2 linked regions of the Homo sapiens genome follow. The protein of the gene in region 1 interacts with the protein of each later gene in a pairwise test. Each region holds a gene or a part of one and is shown in the gene's direction. Other genes may lie near its edges.

Region 1 (7,024 bases):
TGGTCGTGAACTCCTGGCCTCAAGTGATCTGGCCACAACTTCCAGTTGTCTGGGGAAGTATTATCTTTTCAGCATCTCTAGTTCAGGCCACTGGCATCTCTTGCCTGGATTTTCGCAAGGGCCTTCAAGCTTCTTCTGGGGAAGTGTGACATACCCAACTAGATCTTGTGACCTTCCTCCACCAAACACATTTCTCCCTCAGACTTCCCTATCTCAGTGAATCAAATCACTGTGCACCCAGTGGGAAACCTAGACATCACCTTTGACACGACCCTCTTTCTCACCTACATGTCCATTATTCAGTTTATCTCCTAAAAATTTCTTAAATCTTCTCATGTTTTTCCATCTCCATTGACAGCTCCCCAGTCCAAACCACCACGATCACTTGCCTGGACTACTACAACAGCCACACTTGTCTTCCTGCTTTGACTCCTTGTCCTCACCTAGACCTCTGCCCTTCCACCTAGTGGTCAGAGTGATCTTTTCAAAATAAAACTGTAATCATGTATTCCCACCCCAAATCTTTCAGTGGCCTCTTGTTGCTTTCAGGATAGAACCAACACCTATGGCATGGCCCCCAAGGTCCTGCCTCCCTCTTTCTGTGCCTCTTTCTCTCTTGTTTTTCTTGGGCTGCCTATTGCCTGTCCATCAGTTCCTCAAACCTACTCTGATGTTCCCTTCCTTGGGGACTTCACTCAGGCTTACTTTCTGTCTGAAACTTTTTACCATCTGCTTAATGCATATGCATCCCTCCTTCCTCAGCTCAAACATCACTTCGAAGGGAAGGCCTCCTTGGCACTCCCACTCCTAGGCTAACTTAGACCCTCCCAGTACATACACAACTGTGCTAACTGGGCTAATTTTAACTTTGTTACCATTGGCCTTAGGTGGGTCCTAAGTGCTTCCCAGCTAGCCTGGTACATTCTCTCGTCCACTTTTTCTGCCACTCTCCTGAACAACTGTTTCTTACCTTCTTATTCCTCAAACCTCCACATGCCTCTTCTGCCATCTTCACCCTCACCTGATGACTTTGTTTCCTATCTCTTTATTTTATTTTATTTTATTTTATTTTTTGAGATGGAGTCTCACTCTGTTGCCCAGGCTGGACTGCAGTAGTGCGACCTTGGTTCACTGCAACCTCTGCTTCCCAGGTTCAAGTGATTCTCCTGTCTCAGCCTTCCAAGTAGCTGGGATTACAGGCACGCACCACCATGCCTGGCTAATTTTTGTATTTTTAGTAGAGATGGGGTTTCACCATGTTGGCCAGGCTGGTCACAAACTCCTGACCTCAGGTGATCCACCTGCCTTGGCCTCCCAAGGTGCTGGGATTACAAATGTGAGCCACCGCACCTGGGCTGTTTCTTATCTCTAATGATTGCTTCTGTTTTCTCAGAAAATGTCCATATATTTTTATCACAACATCTACTTATGTGACTGCATCTGCATCTGTGTGCAGTGCCTTCTCTCCTGTTACCATGGATGAACACATTGTGCTAGCTAAGGTCAAGCCCCCCACTTGTCACAAGACCCCAAATCTTTCTGCCTACTCAAAGACATTGTTCCAGCAACACCCACCCCCATCTCTCCTGCATTCTCAGTTTTTCCTTTTCTTTGGATCATTCCATATATAGTAATATATGGAATATAAAATGCATATAAATATGCTATGATTTCTCTTATTTCAGAAAAAAACTCTTGATCCTACATCTCCCTCCAGCTATCACTCCATTTCTATGCTCCACTTTAAAACAAAACTCAAAAGAGTTAATATTCAGTGTCTAGTTCCTCTCCTCCTATTCTTTCCTTCAATCCAATTGTTCTAGTTAAGGTCGTGAGCTTCATTTCCAACTCCAGGTTGTTAAACGCAGGAGTCAGTTATCAGCCTACCTTTGATAACTTTGCATTTGATGCTGACACTCCCTCCTCCTTGGAACAATTCCTTTGGTTTCCAGGGGACCACACTTCTGGTTTCTGCTTACCGGCAGGAACTCCTTTTCCATGCTCTCTTGTTGGTTCTTTTTCATCTTCACAACTGAAAATGTGAGTGCCCCAGGGCTCAGGGGCAGTCCTTTGATCCCCTCCTTTTCTTGTCTACCTCACTCCTGAGCAGCCCATCACCTCATGCCTTTAAATGTCCTGTTGAAGCCGGACGCGGTGGCTTACGCCTGTAATCCGAGCACTTTGGGAGGCTAAGGTGGGTGGATCACCTGAGGTCAGGAGTTTGAGACTAGCCTGACCAACATGGTGAAACCCCATCTCTACTAAAAATACAAAATTAGCCGGGCGTGGTGGCAGGCGCCTGTAATCCCAGCTACTTGCGAGGCTGAGGCAGGAGAATTGCTTAAACCTGGGAGGCGGAGGTTGCAATGAGCCGAGATCATGCCATTGCCCTCCAGCCTGGGCAACAAGTGCGAGACTCCATCTCAAAAAAAAAAAAAAAAAAATGCCCCGTTGGTGATCATGACTCTAAGACTATCCCATTTCTATCTCCAGACTTGCTTGCATAACCTAGTGCCTACTCAGTATCTTCATGTGGTTGTCTGATGTGATATAGAAGTCCATGTCAAACTTAACGTGCTCAGAAAATGAACTCATGATCTTCCTGTCCAAATTGCGCCTCCTGCAACCTTTCTCATCTAAATGAGTGGCAATTTGGTCTTCTAGTTGGTCAGGCCAAACACCCAGAAACCATCCTGAGCTTTTTTTTTTTTTTTGAGACAGGTTCTCACTCTGTTGCCCAGGCTGGAGTGAAAGTAGCACAATCATGGCTCACTAAAGCCCTGAACTTTCAACCTCCCGAGGCTCAAGCAATCCTCTGACCTCAGCCTCCCGAGTAGCTGGGACTACAGGATGTGCCACCACACCCAGCTAATTTTTGTATTTTTTATAGAGACGAGGTTTTGCTATGTTGCCCAGACTGGTCTCAAACTCCTGGACTCAAGCAGTCATCCCGCATTGGCCTCCCAAAGTGTAATCCAAAGGGATTACAGGCGTGAGCCACTGTGCCTGGCCCATCCCAAGCTTTTCTCTCTCTCTCATATTTTATATCCAATCTATTGGCAAATCCTGTTGACTCTACCTTCAAAATATATTCAGGATCTGACCATTTCTTAGCCATTGCTACTGCCCTGGTTTAAACCATCATCATCTCTCACCTGAGTCATTGCCATCACCTCCTAACTGGTCTCCTAGCTTCTGACCTTGCCCTCCTGTACTCTTCTCATCATAGCAGCCAGCATGCTCCTCCTAAAGCATGCCAGCGTGTGCCATTCTTTTTTTTTTGAGACAGAGTCTTGCACTTGTTGCCCAGGTCGGAGTGCAATGGCACAATCTCGGCTCATTGCAACCTTCGCCTCCCAGGTTCAAGCGATTCTCCTGCCTCAGCCTCCCTAGTAGCTGGCATTACAGGCGCCCGCCACCACACCCAGCTAATTTTTTTGTATTTTTAGTAGATATGGGGTTTCACCATTTTGGTCAGGCTGGTCTGACCACTCAATTTAAAATTTCATTCTCCAGCCACTCAATTTAAAATTACATTCAGGCTGCCAAGACTTTGTCCTCTATGCCCTGGGGTCTCTGGACCTTCCAGGTAGGAGCCGAGAACCCTTGGTTGGTCCCTCTAACTTGCATTTCTCCCCATCCCTCAAGCAATTCTTATCCCCCTTCCCTGCTTGGGGCTTCACCATGGCATATATTACCATCTGATGTACAGTGTATTTTATTTTATTTATTTTGTTTGTTGTTATCATCTGTTTCTTGCCACTGGACCATAAGCTCTGTGAGGGGGGATTCTTATCTTCTTAGTTCATCATTATGTTCTCAGCACTTGGCATATAGGCACATAATAAATATGAATGAATGAATGGATTCCTAGTACTTCTTGCTTCTCTTTCTATCATAGTCATCATGATTATGATGCAGTACCTAGTGTGTCTCTACCTCTAGAATGAAACAAAGAAAGCTGTGTTTTTGTCTTGCTCACCTTATATACCCAGCACTTAGAAGGTTCTCCAAATTATATCTACTGCATGAATGAAGGTTTCTGAGATGCTAATCTGACCATCTTCACCCGTTTCTGCCCTTAAAGCTTACTGCCCTCAGTATCGAACCTGAATCTTCTTAGCATGTCATAATCACTTTCCCTTTGTCTCATGTCTTGACACTTTTCTCCCCCTTCCACATCCTCTAAGATGCAGCCTTTCCTGAATATGCCATGCTCTTTCACTCCCAGGCCTTTGTACTCACTGTTCTCTTCTTGGAAAGCTCCACCTGACTAACTCCTACTTGTCCTTTAGGGCTCAGCTGAGGTCACATTTTCTGGGAAGCTTTCCAGACCCTTAAGGCGAGCTTGTGTCAGTGGGGGTGGGTACAGAACCCATCTCCAGCTTAGTCCTGCCCAGGCTTCTGCTGACATCTGATTGTTGTGTGTTGGCCAGAGAGGTTGAAGATTAGCTCAGAGAGAATGTTGATGTTGTAGAATGTAGAGTAATGAGAATAGCAGTGGGTGAAATGGAGGTTGAGGCAACTAAAAGCCAGTGTGGGCTCTGGGCTGTCAAGACATTGTCCTCTATGCTCTGAGGTCTCTGGACCTTCCAGGCAGGAGCCAAGAACCCTTGGTTGGTTCCTCTGACTTGCATTTTTCCTCCTTCCTCTCTCTCAGGGGGGGATGTTACCATCACTGACCTGCCCCTGGCCCTAGAACAGATCCAGGGCAACGTCCAGGCCAATGTGCCAGCTGGAGGCCAGGCCCAGGTGCGTGCCTTGTCCTGGGGGATTGACCATCATGTCTTCCCTGCAAACTATGACCTGGTGCTGGGGGCTGATATCGTGTACCTGGAACCCACCTTCCCTCTGCTGCTGGGGACCCTCCAACACCTGTGCAGGCCCCATGGCACCATCTATCTGGCCTCCAAGATGAGAAAGGAGCATGGGACAGAGAGCTTCTTTCAGCACCTCCTGCCCCAGCATTTCCAACTGGAGCTGGCTCAGCGGGATGAGGATGAAAATGTCAACATCTATAGGGCCAGGCACAGGGAACCAAGACCTGCTTGACATCACCCTTGCTGTTCTTCTCAATCTCTTGCTCTAATGAAGGAACTGTGTATCTCAAAAACCATATTTCCAGAGCCACAAACATGAGGACCAAAAAGGATGGATTTCCCTGGCCTCTCTCACTTTCCTCCTTCCCTCTTTGTTACCCCAGATACTCTTGGGCAGGTGCAGTGAGGTGCCTGCTTACAAGGAATCCCAGAGTTCTGGCAGCACTAGTGTTAGAACACCAAGGAGGTTCCTGGCTCCTGTTCTCAGAGAAGGAGGATGGTAAGGTATCCAGGATTTTTAGGGGGTAAGGGAGATATATGGGATGTGAGAGCAGTGATTGTAGACAGACTGTCACTGATCACTTCCATTCCTGTTGCTGTTTACACAGAATGGACTTTAAAAAAATTCTGTGGGATTTTTTTTTCTTTTTTTCTTTTTTTTTGAGACAGGGTCTCACTCTGTCATCCAGGCTGGAGTGCAGTGGTGTGATCACAGCTCACTGCAGCCTCAACCTCTGAAGGCCCAGATGATCTTCCTGCCTCAGCTCCCCAAGTAGCTGGGACTAGAGGCATGCGCCACCACACCCGGCTAATTTTTGTATTTTCAGTAGAGACAGGGTTTCGCCATGTTGCCCAGGGTGGTCTCAAACTCCTGGGCTCAAGTGATCCACCCGCCTTGCCTCCCAAAGTGCTGGGATTGCAGGCATGGCCCACTGTGCTAGCCTAGGATTTTTTTTTTTTTTTAAGAAAGAATTAAGCCTTAAAAATCTATTGTGCAAGAACCCAACTTTTACTCAGGAGCTGAGAAGGAAGAAGCCTCAAACCACCCATTTCCTGCTTTTTAGAGATAGAGTCTAGTGGAACCATGGCTCTAACTGGGTCAAGTCCTCCTAGCTCTGAAGCTAAGGCTGCAGAGCTGTCCTTTGGACTGTATTTCTTCATGCTTTCCAGAGTTAGAGCCTTGATCACGGAACATCATTGTGTGCAGAAGAATACTGTACCTAGTACTAAGTTCTTTTCATCTTTGATTTTTCTTTAGCTTCATCAGTCCTTCCTTCCTAATCTCTAATCCCCTGAAGCCTAACACAGTTCCTAATGTGTTTTGCCTTAACCTCTTTTCTCTTCCCACATTGGTACTTCTGGTTGGGGCTCTCTTTACTTACTGCTTAGGCACATAGTCACCTTCTCTGGACTCCCTGCTTCCATGCTTTCTCCTTCAGTCCATTCCGCAAACTCTTGTGATCTTCCAAAATTAGCTCTGATTAGCTTTCACTTCCTGTAGAAGCAAGAACAAGCTCCTCTGCTTGGTACTTAGTCTGTGTCCATGTGATCCAAAATTACCTTCCTATTGCATTTCCTACTCCTTTGCTACGTGTATTGGACCTCTGGCCAAATTACAAAAGATGTACTCTTTGTTCTCTAAAACCACACTAAAGTTTTCTGACTTCTTTCACACTCTTTATGATAATCCTCTGCCTGAAAGGCTATTGCCACCTGTCAAAATCTTCATTATTCTTTGCCTCTTTCCTGAGCCTCTTGCTTGAATGTGATTTCTTTCTCCCTGAGACCCATAAGGTTCATCTTATGGGACCTTAATTTGTCTTGCATGGACATTTGTGATTCTCATTTTCTCACCATTAAATTACCTTGGAGGGTAGGGCTGTGGTTTACTCCTGTCTAAACCCCTGAAGCCTAACACAGTTCCTGGCACACAACAGGTGTTCAACAGATATTGTGCTCATTCAATAAATATTTACTCGCTTTGTTTAATGGATTCCACCCCTGCCTTCCTAGGTGACCTTGGACAAATTCTCGAACCCATTCACCAACCACACAAGTTTGTTGTGAGTCATAAATGGATAATGAATATAAATGCGCATTGAAAATAAACATAAAATGTTACCCACATTTCTTGTGTTGTTGTTTTGTGACGACTTTATTTCTTGGTTTCTGTTATTTTACCTGGGGTGGGAGGTGGGGGGTAA
Region 2 (7,505 bases), on another chromosome or scaffold:
GGGAGGCTGAGGCAGGAGAATTGCTTGAACCCAGGAGGTGGTTGCAGTGAGCTGAGATGGCGCCACTGCACTCCAGCCTGGGCGAAAGCAAGACTCCATCTCAAAAAAAAGAAACAAAACAAAACAAAACAAAAGAAACAAAAAACCTTGTTGGATCTCTGTCCTATTGTTGGACATTTCCATTGCTTCCAATTCTCCAGTATTAAACACCACGTTAAGGCGAACATCCTGAAAGTTAAAGTAGTTTTGAAAACTCTCTCAAACTATATCTTTTCCTCTGCTCGTACACCAACACAACAACAATCATCCACACAGAAGTCTTCTGTGATCAAATGTGTGGGTTTTTTCCCTAAATGCCAAGCAGCAGACACCAACTGAGTGCCTTCCAATTCGATTCTGACATGATCTACCCGGAGATAGTGTCAGATCCCACAGATTGAGGCCTCAGTTCCCAAGACTGCCCACCCAGCCCCAAGACACCAGTTGCCAGTCTGGCCTCTGGAACTTCTGACCAACTGGCTTCACGCTGGGGTTCCTACAACCTCCTCTTTGGGCTTAATTTGCTGGAGTGGGTCACAGAACTCAGGGAAGCACTGACTGACTTTTACTGGCTTACTGTAAAGGGTATTACGAAGGATACAGCTGAAGAGATGCATAGGGCGAGATATGGAGGAAGGGGTATGGAGCTTCCATGCCCTCCTGGGCATGCCACCCAGCCTCCACACGTTCAGCTATTCAGAAGCCCTCTGAACCCTGTCCTCTTGGGGTTTATGGAGGCTTCACGACATCTGCATTCCTTCCTCCCAGAGTATAGGGCAGGACCCTCTCTGGGGAGGGTCTTAAGACTCGCAATCAGAAAGGTGTGGGAAAATTAGGGTCCTGACTTGGGGCAGGTGAAAGCAGAGCAGGAGAAGGTCAGAGAGATTCCGTTTCCTGGGGCCTGCCCTGAGGCCCAACACATTATAGCCAAAGACCGTAACAAGGGCAATGGGAGCTATGAGCCAGTAGCCGAGGATGAAAATCAATACCTAACACCACATGGGTTTTTTTTTCCCCCATCTTTGAGGGACTTTACATCTCTGAGGGCTTTTCAGTGAGGAATTTAAGCTCATAGAGGGGTTATGCCCTGCCTAAGGTCACACAGGAACTATGGCCTCCACCTCAGCCTTTGCCTCCAACCCAGGACACTGCTCAGTGTCCAGTACTGTTTCTGCTTCTTAGGAGGCCTCCACATCCCCCTGCACCCCAAAATCAGTTGGGCCCATCATATCTGGGGTTGGGGACCTCTGGACTCCAAGTCCCCCACCCTTGCTCCCTGGAAGACAGTGTCCCCTCCATACATGGTGCTGTGAATGCTGGTCTGCAGATCCCTGCTTCTCCCTCCTGTACTAATTTTAGCTCCTGTGAGTTTCCTGTAGGGACCCAGTCCAGCCTCCAGGGCCTCTGAACTGGAAGCTGTGAGCAAGGCAGGGGGTAGTGGCCAGAGGACCCTGTGGAATGTTCTCTCCTGGAGCCTGAAATCCCAGGGCTTAAAGTTTAGCTCTGGGGGAGCTGGGGGTAGGAAATGAGGACCCCCAGTCACAAAGCTAGGCTAGGATCCAGGGACTCAGCCTAGGGTGGGGGTGGGAGCTGGGCAGCCTAGGCCTGTGCCACAGCAGCTGGGGCCTGCTGGGAGTTGGCTGTCCCTGACCTCATCAGCCCCAGGCTCAGCTCAGAATAGCTGTGGGGCTGGGCCAGGCCTGTGTCAGACCTGCGTGTGCTTGAGCATGTGCTTTGTGTACTAAGGCACTGGTGCACATGGGAGTGCATGTGCATTCTGCATGCAGCTTTGTGTGTGGCTGGGTATGAGTCTCAATGGCTCCAGAATCACAGGTGCCATTCACATACGTGTGTGTTCCCTGGAGTAGTGTGCAGGTCTGTGTCCCTGTGGATGGGCACATGATCTGCACACGCATACCCAGGGCTGCCACTAGAGTTGTGCAACTTGGAGTCCTTACCAGTGGGTTCAATGGTAGATGGGTCCATGTGGCACAGGGACCCACCCATTCCCTGACTGTGGAATTGTATCTGTGTGCAGCGGGTGTGGGAGTGGTGTGGGTGGGTATACACATCTGTGGTGGGATTGGCTAGGGGCCCTTGGCTGTGCTGCAGGGGACTGAAGGCAGGTGGACTCAGCAGAGGCTGTCCTTTGGGCACTACCAGAGGCCTTACCTGGCCCCAAGCCAAGAATGAGCTGTAAGAGAGGCTGGGCAGGTCTTGCCCCATTTAGCAGATAGGAAAACTGGGCTTGCAATGCCCATGAGGTCACCCAGGGAATGGGGGAAGGACTGGTCTGCTGCCCAGAGCTCAGTCAGCCTTTCTATTCCCCTAGATGTGGCTGAACAGGAAGTCTGTGCTCTAGGGAGGAAGCCGTGGGAGCCCTTCCCTTCCTGCTCGAGCCCAGGCAGCACTGCCTTCCCTCAGCTGCACGTGCAGATGATGAAAGTGAGGCCCAGAGACACCTAGCATAAGATCAGATCTGTCCTGCTCGGGGCCTTGCCCCACCTGTCCCTGTTCGTCACAAGTGGTGAGGCCATATGCTCCTCCTGAGGCCATGGCCACTCTCCAGCCCTTGCCTCCCTCCTAAGCCCCAGGGATGCCTGGTGGCCCACACCCATGCTCTAGGGGACCCATAGATCCTCTAAACCGTGCTCATCCCTGAAGGAGCCCCTTGAACCCACCATACCCCTCCTCTCAGAGTCCCACATAACCCCGAGAAGGAGGCGCAGGTAAGATATTTCACCAGCAGGGGCACTACGTTACAGAGAGGCCACACACTGCCTGTGATCACACAGCAAGAGGAAAGCAGCACAAGGCCCCATACCAGCTCTTCCAGAATGTACCGCTACCTCCCACTGCCCCACAGGCACAAAGGATCCCCACAGGGAAGACCTTGGAGGCCTGTTTAGAACCTGAAGCCTCAGTTCATTCCACCTGCTGGGGCGGTGGCTCTGCCAGGCTGTGCTGTAGACTCAGGGAGCCAAGTGCCCCAGCAGACAGTCCCGCAGGCCAACAGGGCTGTGAAGGGGAGTGGGGGCCAAGGTCCGGAGCCTGGGGGTGGAGGGCATGGGGAGGGGAGGCTTTCCCAGAGGGCCAGAGGGACACCTCACCAGAAGCCTCCTTGAGGTAGCCCCCACCCACCAACACAGCAACACCTCTAGCAGGCAGGGACCAGAGGAGCAAGGCCTTTGGGAGTGGAGCCCCTCAGGCAGCAGGGGGTGCAGAAGGGGGCAAGAAAACAAGGCTGGAAAAGGGGAGGCCAGAGCTAGGGCGGGCTTTGGCAATGTGGGGAGGGATGGAGAAGCAGGAAGGGGCGGCTCTGCAGGATTGGGACCCAGGAGGAGAGCAATGTGGGGCAAAAGGGTGAGGTCACTGGGACCTGCAGTCACTCAGACAAGGGTCCCAGGCTGGAAACCCTCCAAGGGGTGATGTGCAGCTTGGCAGACAGTAAACTCCCACCTCGCAACAACCCAAGGGAGCCAGGGGATGAGCTTGGCAGGCCCCAGGCCCCTACTTACCTCCACTGGGGGTCTCTTCAGCCTGGCAGGTTGGGGGATGCCTCCCACCTCCTCAGTAGGGGGCTGAGTAGGGGGCTGGTGGGCCACCCTTTCTGCTCTTCCACGGCCGCCTTGGACCCTGAGCCTCCCCCTCACTGGAACCTGAGTGCCACTGAGAGCAATGGGTGACTAACCTGGTGGCCAGAGGGGGAATCAGGCTGCTGACGGGGGGCTTCTTTGTTACAGGTTTGAACTAAGTTCCCTCCCGCTCCCGGGGGGTCTGTCCCAGATAAGTCTTCAGCCACCCTTTCCAAGGTCTCAGGCCTTCGCACAAAGCACACGCGGCCGGCTTCATGCTCTACTAGGCCTGTTGAGACTCAGGAGTGGGGAGGAAAGGGGACTTCCCCAAGGTCGCACAGGAGGGGCGGCCGGCCGTGGACACCCAGCCCAGGGGGCCGCAGGGCGCCTCAGTATACCCCTCTACAGGCTCCAAGTTCCACGAACCCACACAGCGCTCCGCGTGTGCTGGCTTCTGTGACTCAGGGCAGACCCGGGAGGTCACGGGGCTGCACCACAGGCTCGCAGAGCGACTGACTGGCGGGGCGAGGTGGTGGCACGGCGGCCTCGGAGCCTTGCAGGGGAAGCGGGGCGCGAGAGGCGAGCCTGAGTGTGCGCGTGGGTGCGTAGGGGGCGGAGGGGTCAAGACTCCCACTTTTCCTCCCCGCGCCGGGTCCCAGGGGCCTCCGGATCCCGGGGGACGCCAGAGGGAGGCCTCAGGAGAGGCTTGGGGCGGCGGGACGGATCAATACCGCGCGCCAGCTCCTCGGTGGCCCGCCCGTGGCCCCCGCAACTCCAGAGCAACACCCGGAGGCGGGGCGGGGCGGGGCTGGGCGAAGGGGGCGGGGCTGGCAGGGGGCGGGACTGGCAGGGGGCAGGGTGGGGGTGCGAGCGAGGAGCCGCACAGGCAGTCCCGGCGCGGGGCAACCACAGCGCTCAGGTAAGGGCGCGACGAAGGGCGCGCGTCTGCGGACGGGTGTCTGCGCTCCACGCTTAGCTCGTCCAGGTGGGGGCTCCCGCCTCCTCGGCTGCTGCGGTCCCCGCCCAGCTCCTTGGTCCCGGCGGCAGTCATCCCCCGGCCGTCCGAGTCCCTCGTAAGATACCCCGCTCACAGCGTCGTCCTCCCTGCCTGGCTGCTAGCCTGCTTGGGTTCGGGGCAGCGCCCCGGGCCTGACCTGAGCCGTGGTGGCAGGGCCACGGGGCCCCAGCCAGCAGGAGAGACTGCCAGGAGGAGGTGACGCCGGCTGGTTAGGGCGGAAGGGCCCGACCCGGGATTCCAGGAGGTGGCCTTTTCGCATGGGAGCGGCATGGCAAATGCCTGGCGGCCGGAACAGGAGCTCGGGTCTGGGAAACTCCAGCGACTGAGTGTGTGCCTGGGCAGGGAGAGGAAGGGAAGCTGGGACATATGCGACAGCAGGGAGGGGTGCTTGTCTAGGACAAGAGGCTTGTAGCCATGGTGGGGCCGAGGAAGGGTGCAGCGGGGAGAGGCGAGCATGAGACTGAGGGATCAGGTGTGACAGTTCAGCGCCCCCTCCCTGGGGCAGTGCGTGTCTCTACTCTCCCCCACTGGGCACCAGACAACGAAGGGGCTGCCACGGCAGCCCATGAAAAAGCCTCCACAGCAGGCAGAACTTCCCTGCCTGTTCAGACCAGGAAATACCAGAGTGAGTGAGTGTCACGACAAGGTGTGTCAGGGGCCTAAGGAGCCAGGCCTGGGAGAGGACAGGGAAGGCCCCAGTGACCCTGCCCGGGAGGGACCTAGCGTGGACAGAGGCCAGGAATGCAGAGGAGAGACCAGGTCTGGCTACTGGTTAGAGCGCCACAGGGGCAGCCGCTGACTCACCTGGGCACGCCGTGACTGGCCAGTTCTGTCCTCACCCTGCCCCACCCCACCGCACCCCGTGGTGAGCATCAGGGCTGCCTGAGGACAGCTGTGAGGCAGGGCCCGTCAGGATCTTGCTCTGTGCCTCAGGTGAGTTGCCCACCCTCTCTGAGCCATCTAGCTAGGTGAACCTGGTGGGCTGGAGCCAGAAGTCTGGGTCTGAGCCCTGCACAAGTTCTACACAAGGGTCTCTGGACCCTCCCATTGTTCCTGGGCCTCAGTTTCCCCATCTGTACATTAGGCACAGCCTGTCACTAAGGAACCTTTGAACTGGAGGGAGGGAGAGGGTGAGGAAGCTATGCCCTTGACTGGAAGGGGGAAGGTTAGGGATGGGACAGGGGTTGGGGAGGGGGGTACTCCTGCAGGATCCTCCTCATATTAAGGTTCAGCACCTCCTCCTCCTGCCCTGCAAACGTGCACACTCATGCACATTCACGCTGCCTCACCCCTGCACTTACACTCTCCTCATCACTTCCAGGATGAAGCCCCAGACTCCCTAGCCTGGGAGCTGGGTCCCTCAGGGTCACCTAACCAGAATCCCAGCTTCCACTGCGGCCTTCCCCCAACCCACTGCCTCACCAGCCATGCTTAACTTCTGCCCGTTCCTCTGGGTGGTGTGACTCAGTTTCCCAGGGTTATAGATCCCTTTGGGGCCACAGATGTGGAAGACTCCCAGATTAACAGTTGCCAACTTGAGTCTGGAGGACTCACCCCCGGAGTCATAGGCTGCTTTGTGGGGTGGGGAGTCTAAGGACCAGATCCCCACACCCAGAGAAGCCCCCTTCCACCTGTTTGTCCTTTTGAGGGGAGACTTAAGTAGTTTGAAAAGCTGTGATCCTCTTTGGCTGGGCGCAGTGGCTCACGCCTGTAATCCCAGCACTTTGGGAGGCCAAGATGGGTTGATCACTTGAGGCTAGGAGTTTGAGACCAGCCTCGTCAACATAGTGAGATCCCATCTCTAAAAAAAAAAAAAAAAAAGAATAGAAAGAAATACAAACAAATAAAAAGAAAAAAATGCTGTGATCTGGTTGAACCCCCATTTCGTAGAGGGGTGGCTGAGGTACAGAGAGGAGTAAGGCTGTGGATAAGTTGAAGCATGTCCAGGGCTGAGCAGCCAGGTGAGGGCTGCTCCTGGGGGAGCAGCTGAGACTGGGCAGTGGGGACGAGGGACAGGAAGCCTGAGGAGGAGAGGCTATCTCTAGGGTCAGAGAGCTCCTTGCCAGGGTATGGTGTCGGCTGGGGTCATGGTGCTGGCCCCCCGGAGAGTGTAGGGATGTTGGTGTTCAAGTCTTCCTAGCAGCGAGTTATTTACTGCAGTATCTTTTCAACGTGCACTGATCTGGTTCCTAGTCTGCATCTCCTATCCTAGCCTCACCCTTTCTTCTACCTTCCCAACCAGGCTTGGATATCCTCACCTCTTAGCTTAGACCCCAGCTGACTGCCAGCTGAGAGTGAAAAGGTCACCCCCAAAGCGCCTTTCCATTCCAGCAGTTTCGGGAGATACGGGTGAGAGTTAGGTGGGCCTGGCTGCACCCCTATTCCCTTGGCTGGGCTTTCCTTGTCTGCCTGAGCTGACCTGGAGCCCCCTGTGTCCTGGGGGCCTGGGTCTGCCTCAGGGGCCCACAGAGGGAGAAGAAGCTGCAGCACAGAAGCTGCAGCTGGGTGTCTGGTGGCTTCCCCTTCCTGCCTCTCTCTCTGCAGCCTCACCCTCTCGAAGCAGCAGTAGCAGGAAAGGTGGGGCAGGAATGCCTGGCCTGGGCCTTTGGCCAGAGCTCTGAGGGACCCGCCCCACTCCATTCCAGAGCCAATTCCCTGGGAGTTGTAGGCTCTGCCAGGGGCCTGGGATGCCCGCATGGCACTCTCGGGGCAGGGTGGAGAGGGGAGGGCTGAGACCCCTTCCCACTCACCCTTTTGGGTCTGCCTGTGTCACCTGCCCATCGTTGGCTGCCCTGATTTTGTCCCCTGCCCCACACAGGTTGGCTAACTCCAAAGCCTCAGCGTGTCAGAGACAAGGAGAGAGACAGTCTGCG

Evidence for each region. The genes of interacting proteins can lie anywhere in the genome.
Region 2: the proteins of EEF1AKMT3 (region 1) and ALS2CL interact in binary tests that used the Homo sapiens proteins (3 or more experiments, as listed by UniProt).

What each region holds. Positions count from the first base shown.
Region 1 is NC_000012.12:57,775,595-57,782,618, forward strand, and holds the end of EEF1AKMT3 (EEF1A lysine methyltransferase 3), read left to right. Parts: intron 1-4,660; coding exon 4,661-5,052; 3' UTR 5,053-6,947; downstream 6,948-7,024. UniProt on the Homo sapiens protein: Protein-lysine methyltransferase that selectively mono-, di- and trimethylates 'Lys-165' of the translation elongation factors EEF1A1 and EEF1A2 in an aminoacyl-tRNA and GTP-dependent manner.
Region 2 is NC_000003.12:46,690,671-46,698,175, reverse strand, and holds the start of ALS2CL (ALS2 C-terminal-like protein), read left to right. Parts: upstream 1-4,496; 5' UTR 4,497-4,533; exon of another isoform or gene 4,534-4,687; intron 4,688-7,505. UniProt on the Homo sapiens protein: Acts as a guanine nucleotide exchange factor (GEF) for Rab5 GTPase. Regulates the ALS2-mediated endosome dynamics.